Linked DNA regions of Homo sapiens. The protein of the gene in region 2 interacts with the protein of the main gene of each other region in a pairwise test. Each region holds a gene or a part of one and is shown on either strand. Other genes may lie near its edges.

Region 1 (3,649 bases), on a different chromosome or scaffold from region 2:
TAAGAATCAGATAGGATTTACAGCATAGTATCATTTCTGTAAATTAGCAACAAATACTCCAAATAATTCTATTGTGTATTTTTCAAGAGTACACCCCCCTCCCCCACATCACACACACACAAAGTTGACATATGCACGTGTGGAGGTGGACTGGAAGGACAAATAATAAATAAACACATCACAGTGGTCACCTGGGCTGTGGGCAATGGCCCAAAATGTGTGATTAATCCAGCTCCCTGTACTTGAGGTTGCCTGACAAGACCCACTGAAGGAAATCAACATAAAGGGCACACAAACAATGAAAAGATGTGCACGTGCACATGCGTATGCATCAATTTTGACAGCTTCTGGATGGACAGTCAAAACCCACTCACTGTGGGTGCCACAGGAGGGCTCTGAAGAGGGAGGTTTTAAACTTTATCATTGTATGCTTTTTGCCATCTGCTTATGTTACTTTTTTTTTCCAAATAAACATTAGTTTAAAAATGAAAACAAAGAACTACTGGAACTGATACCATCTGAAGAAATGGGTTTTCTATAATCTGCTCTGGATACAGGCCTCTGAAAGATGAATATCTCCCAGGTGCCTGCTGACTACAGAAGTGTGCTTGCAGAGCCCTCCTCTAAGCCTAACCCACACCCAGGCACAGAATGGCTGGGGATGCTCTCTGTGCTTAGAACACAATGCCTGTGACAGGGTTTGCATTACTTTTAAAATGCACATATCAACTACCTAAAATGTTAACTGAATGATGAAAGTGACCACTGAAGTTGCATCTACTACTAATGAGGAGAAGCCAGTAGTTTTAAGATGTCATGGCCTGTAGCCCATTAAAAACATCAGTTTAACCCAGAAGCCCACGTTAAAAATAAGTGGTAAACTCTGAGACGCTTGGATAGGAATGTTAGAAGCGTGGAGCCTCCTGTGTCTAGGTCCTGCTGCTGCCCCTCACGGGGGTCCCAGCAGCACCTGTTTAGAACCTCAGTCCTTCAAAGAATACTGTGGAACACCTGAGTGGGAAATGGGGCCAAAATTCAAATGGTTGTGGAAAAGGGAGGTTGGCAAACAGTATGGATGAATCCTGTGTGCAGGGAGGTGGCCACAGGGAGCCCCCGCCCCTTACCGTGCAATCTTGTCACTGCAGGACATGGTGAGCAGCCGCTCCCCTTGCAGCACCCCGTCCCACGTTTGGATGCTCGCATTGGAGCGCACTGGAATCGTCCCCTCACCAGACTCTATTTTGGTCCGTAGCTGTCCTCTTGCTTTACGATTTGGGTGTCTATCTGCTGGTTCTAAGAGAGAAAAAGAGTTAAAACCCCACAGGTAGTAAACCATCTATTTGATTTATTGAAAAGCACATCTAACAATAGCTTATAAATTTAAAATACAGTCTGTGCATATAAATGCATATGTTTATGCCATACATACAAAATACACATACAAAATAAGTATGTGAAGCTGAGAGGCTGGGTATGGTGGCTCACACCTGTAATCTCAGCACTTTGGGAGGCTGAGGCAGGTGGATCGCTTGAGCCCAGGAGTTTAAGACCAGCCTGGGCAACATGGTGAAACCCCATCTCTATAAAAAATATAAAAATTAGCCAGGTATAGTGGTACATGCCTGTAGTCCCAGCTCCTTGGAAGGTTGAGGTGGAAGGATCGCTTAAGAGCCCAGGAGGTCGAGGCTGCAGTGAGCCATGATTGCACCACTGCACTCCAGCCTGGGTGTAAGAGCGAGACCCTGTCTCAAAAAAAAAAAAAAAAAATTATATGAAATTGAGTAGGAAGGACATAACACAAACAAAATTCACAAAAGTGGTCTCCAAGGGAGTTGGGGAAATGGGGTTTTCACTTTAACTGAAATGATTTATTTCTATCATTAAAAATGCACTGAAGCAAATAGGACAAAATGCTAACATTTGCTAATTCTGGGTGATGGATACTTGGGTGTTTGCCATGTTATTTTCCTCTATATTTTTAAAATTTCCAAAATAAATCTAGACAGATGCAGAAATAAACCCATGGAAAGTATGGTAAAACATCCATAGTGAGTATTTCTGGGTTACAGGAATACGGATGATTTTAATGTTCTTATATTTTAAAAATAGTTAGCAATTTTCCACAGTGAGTATGCCTGTTGCTTTTATAAACAAGGAAAGTAATGTAATAAAACGTTCTATTTGGAATAAACAATGCCTAAGGGCTTGGGAGAAGGGATGTAGATACAAAACACTAAAAAACAAAAGTGCTAACCTCAAATGTAAAGAAGGATGGAAAAAAATATGATCACAATAGTGGTTTCACTTTTCACTAGTGTTTATCTGCTTCTGAAATATCAGGCAAATAAATACTTTAATTACACATTTAGCAAATTAGAATTCCTCAGAAATATGGAGGATCACATACACCTCTGATTTAGAGATATTTATTACCCAAATTTAAATACTGATACAATTTTAATCCAATATTCTCACTCCATTCTAATTACTTGGTTAATTACAATCAGCATTTTTCATTCATTAAAGTTTTCTAATTAAGTTAATTGGAAAGAAAAAAATCCATGCTTTTATAGAGACTCTTATCAGATCCACATCCAAGTCTAAAAATAAAAAGAAAAAAAGGAAAAGGGATATTAACACAGGTTAGTTTTTATCTGTTAACATTTTCTTGAGAAACTGGCTTGTTGAAGAATCTCGTCTCATACCTTCCAGGATTGGCTCATGTGGTGAGAAGATTCTGGCATCTCCACAGGGAGAGGTGCTGATGTACAGATGAAACTGGACATTCTCCTTCAGCCTAAACCCCCCTCGCTCTGATTTCTGAAAGATGGATCTTTTTTGATCATCTTTGTTACTGAAAGGAAAAAAGTTGCAAAAGTAACATTTAAAGCTGTATATAGTTAAATTTTAGTCTATCATTTTCAGAGGCTAGTATTTTCCACAAGGGAAAGATAAGTTTGAACTGGAATATTTATTTTACATGTTTAGGGTAATTAATACAGTTCTTGTCACTCAATAATGGATATGTCATCAGGATGTGAGTAACCTTTCCTTCTTCCAATTTATGACTTCAGAACAGAAAGACCACATACAAAAAATGGCTTTGTAAAGAAAAGGAGTTTGGATACATGACTAGCTCTTTCTAGAAACGGTGACTAGAATAAAAATTACCATCTTTACCTGGCAGTTTGGGAACTTCTATTTATACAGCATACAACAAAATCACATGGTCTTAAACACAGACTTGAAATTTATGACCATGTTATGTTATTGTATGTATGTGTGCATATGTGTGTTGAGCATTGTGGAAGAATGGGATGCAGCCTTATTGTTACTAATTAAAGTTATGATTTTGAGAGATTTTCCATGATTACAGAAACAATGAAAGGTTTTGCAATGTTTTCTAATAGAGGAATATTTTTTAAAAAGAGCTTCCTGTCCTTATTTGTTTACTAAACTTACTTTAAGTAAAGCTCAAGTTGTGTATAAAGAAATCTGAGCAAGGATCTCCGAGATATTATTTCTGCATGGCAGTCATTTAATGCAAGGCCACGATCACTCATGTATTCACCATTAATACATTTTGTTCCTGTAGAAACACTTATCACCTTGGCATCTTTAACATCTGTGCCTGAAAAAAAAAAAAAGA
Region 2 (3,649 bases):
AAAGGATCTCTGTGGCCTGTGTGCCTAGACCCACCGTCTCACGTGTGCCCGTTCTCCGTGCCTGTTCCTCAGGCCTCTTGCTTTAGTCTTTATCTCCACGCTTCCATACGTCTGAGGTTCAGTCGGCGCTGGGGGCAGGAGCAGGAGGAGGTGGTGGTGAGGATGATTTCAAAGACTCCGGTGTCTGCAGGTCACTGTGAGGTTTTCAGGGCCTCACTCTAGGTCCTCCAGCAGGCTGGGTCTGGGTGTGCGAAGTGGGCTCTGCTGATCTGGTGGTCCTGCGCGGTAACGGCCACGCGGCCTGGCCGGGAGCCACCCCTGAGCAGTGGGTCTCAGACTCCACCCATGGCTGCTCTTTGGTCTCAGGCTGCTGACTGACTGGCGTTTCACCCGAGGCGTGGAAGAGCAGACCAAAGCCTTCCTGGATGGCTTCAACGAGGTGGCCCCGCTGGAGTGGCTGCGCTACTTTGACGAGAAAGAGCTGGAGGTGAGTGTCTGAGGTTGCTGGGACCCTGAGCCCCTGCCTCTGGGGCGATCCTGCTCTGTGATACGCTCACTGTGTACCCACAGACACTCAGCGTAAAACTCCCACTTCGGCAGGGCAGATGGGTTTGATTTGGGACCCACCCTTCCCCAGACACTTGTTTCAAGAAAGCAGGGACTTACATTACCCATATTATTAACGCTGACACCAAAAATAGCTAGTTGAATATGTTTGGGGTAATGTCAAGTGCTAGCGAGTGGACGATGCGCGGGGAGGGACCTGCCGGGGATGCTGACTGCCGCCTCTCCCCAGCTGATGCTGTGCGGCATGCAGGAGATAGACATGAGCGACTGGCAGAAGAGCACCATCTACCGGCACTACACCAAGAACAGCAAGCAGATCCAGTGGTTCTGGCAGGTGGGTCCCGGGCCCAGGCCTTGGCAGGGACATTTGGGCCATCAACCAAAGGAAACGGGTCCTGAGGAGGCCTCACGCGCAAGGACCTTCAGCTTTGGCCCTGTCCTTGCCTCCCACACCTTGCAAAAGGAGACGATAGACCAGCCTTGGGATGAACGGGGACAGTTCCAGCTGAGTGGTGGCCAGTGGATGTGACAGGAGGTCGTCAGTGGTCAGCCTTGGGCCAGCTGGTGTGCAGGGACAGACCTGCAGGCAGACAGCAGCTGCCACTGGTTGAGAGGTCCCCTGCCAGCCAGATGGGACAGGAAGGCAGGGGCTTGGCTCCAGAAACCAGAAAGAGCTGTCATCCTATGTATAATTAATGTGTTGATTCTTTTATACGTATGGGTTTTGTTGTTGTCGTTATGAAATACAGCATACAAAAAAAAATAGCGATTACAGGTATTCTTAGTACATGTCTGTGTGCATATGTACGTATACAAATTTTTTGTGGAGGTGAAATTTGTATAACATACAATTAACTATTAATTTTTTTTTTTTCAATAGAGACAGGGTCTTGCTATGGTGCCCAGCCTGGTCCTGAACTCCTGGGCTCAAGCAGTCCTTCCATCTCACCCTCCCAAAGTGCTGGGATTACAGGCGTGAGCCACTGTGCCCAACCCATTTAAGTTTTTTAAGATACACAATTCAGTGGCTTTCCACTTTGGGTTCCTTGGCTTCCCACCCAGGCCGAGGTGGGCAGATCACTTGAGGTCAGGAGTTCAAGACCAGCCTGGCCAAAATAGTGAAACCCTCTTTCTACTAACAATATAAAAAATTAGCCAGGCATGGTGGTGGACACCTGTAATCCCAGCTACTCGGGAAGCTGATGCATGAGAATCACTTGAACCTGGGAGGTGGAGACTGCAGTGAGCTGGACCGTGCCACTGCTCTGCAGTGAGCTGGACCGTGCCACTGCACTCCAGCCTGGGCGACAGAGCAGTGGCTTCCAGTACATTCACAGTGTTGTGCACCTGGCACCACTATCTAATTCTGGAACATTTCATCTCCCCAAAAACCTTATACCCATTAAGCAGTCACTCCCATATTTAGTCATCTCTAAAAGCAGAACGTGGATGGGAAGAGAATACCCAGCCTGAGGTGTCCCTGAGACCCAGAGATGTCCCATGGACTGGTGGGAATCTCATGCACACACAGCCTCTTAGCAAAAGCACTTCTGGGGTTTCTCAGGTTGGAGGCTGTCATCCCCTGGCCAACCTGGCTTTGTGTTCTCAGCCCCAAAGAGGGGCCCCGCTGAGCTAGAGAGCTCCACGTTCGGGCAAAGTACTGGGCCCCGTGGGTTGCCTGACTGTGCCTTGACTTGCGGACTTCCAGGTGGTGAAGGAGATGGACAACGAGAAGAGGATCCGGCTGCTGCAGTTTGTCACCGGTACCTGCCGCCTGCCCGTCGGGGGATTTGCCGAACTCATCGGTATGTTTTCTCTCGCCCTCTGGCGTCCTGGCTGGCAGTGCGGACAGCTCAGAGGGAGGGGGAAACCTAGTCTCTTCCTGGAAGCACGTCAGTGGGATGGAGAAGAGCTGTGGCCTCTGCATCCTGGGGCCGAGCCCATCTGTGGGTGGAGCCGGAGGATCCTGCTTTGGGAAGGGACGTCTCTGCTGACGTCGGCGTGTTTTACCTTGGATCACAGGTAGCAACGGACCACAGAAGTTTTGCATTGACAAAGTTGGCAAGGAAACCTGGCTGCCCAGAAGCCACACCTGGTGAGCCTGCTGGTTTTAGTGGGAGGTCGGGGGGCCTCAGACCCGATGAGCTCCTGGGACAGCCCAGTGGGTGTAGCAGCTTCATAGCCTCGAGTCTGGCAGCTTTTGCGTGGCCCTGGGGTGTTGGGTTGGAGAGATGGGGCTGTGATGGGCATCTGATCTACCGGGTTTTACATATGAAGCACTTCTGTTCCAGTAGTCCAAGAGCTACTGCCCCAAGTGTCCCCCGCAACCAATTTCCAGCTGTCCTGGCCCCTCCCTTAACACCCCATGGTCCAGGCACCTGCAATGTGAAGGCCTGACTGGCAGCCCCTGAGCCCTAGCCAGTGTGGTGCAAGCCCTGTGGCCCTGCTGCAGGCAGGCATGGTGGGGCTATCAGAGCCCTGGCCTCCTAGGGCTGACTGTCGTGCTTCCCCACTCTCAATAGCTTCAACCGTCTGGATCTTCCACCCTACAAGAGCTACGAACAGCTGAGAGAGAAGCTGCTGTATGCCATTGAGGAGACCGAGGGCTTTGGACAGGAGTAACCGAGGCCGCCCCTCCCACGCCCCCCAGCGCACATGTAGTCCTGAGTCCTCCCTGCCTGAGAGGCCACTGGCCCCGCAGCCCTTGGGAGGCCCCCGTGGATGTGGCCCTGTGTGGGACCACACTGTCATCTCGCTGCTGGCAGAAAAGCCTGATCCCAGGAGGCCCTGCAGTTCCCCCGACCCGCGGATGGCAGTCTGGAATAAAGCCCCCTAGTTGCCTTTGGCCCCACCTTTGCAAAGTTCCAGAGGGCTGACCCTCTCTGCAAAACTCTCCCCTGTCCTCTAGACCCCACCCTGGGTGTATGTGAGTGTGCAAGGGAAGGTGTTGCATCCCCAGGGGCTGCCGCAGAGGCCGGAGACCTCCTGGACTAGTTCGGCGAGGAGACTGGCCACTGGGGGTGGCTGTTCGGGACTGAGAGCGCCAAGGGTCTTTGCCAGCAAAGGAGGTTCTGCCTGTAAT

What was found. Proteins that work in one complex are often made in the same cells at the same time.
Region 1: the proteins of WWP2 (region 2) and ADARB1 interact in binary tests that used the Homo sapiens proteins (3 or more experiments, as listed by UniProt).

What each region holds. Positions count from the first base shown.
Region 1 is NC_000021.9:45,182,567-45,186,215, reverse strand, and holds part of ADARB1 (double-stranded RNA-specific editase 1), read right to left. Parts: intron 3,632-3,649; coding exon 3,463-3,631; intron 2,855-3,462; coding exon 2,706-2,854; intron 1,743-2,705; coding exon of another isoform or gene 1,623-1,742; intron 1,294-1,622; coding exon 1,125-1,293; intron 1-1,124. UniProt on the Homo sapiens protein: Catalyzes the hydrolytic deamination of adenosine to inosine in double-stranded RNA (dsRNA) referred to as A-to-I RNA editing.
Region 2 is NC_000016.10:69,936,752-69,940,400, forward strand, and holds part of WWP2 (NEDD4-like E3 ubiquitin-protein ligase WWP2), read left to right. Parts: intron 1-366; coding exon 367-487; intron 488-796; coding exon 797-901; intron 902-2,275; coding exon 2,276-2,372; intron 2,373-2,589; coding exon 2,590-2,662; intron 2,663-3,089; coding exon 3,090-3,189; 3' UTR 3,190-3,649. UniProt on the Homo sapiens protein: E3 ubiquitin-protein ligase which accepts ubiquitin from an E2 ubiquitin-conjugating enzyme in the form of a thioester and then directly transfers the ubiquitin to targeted substrates.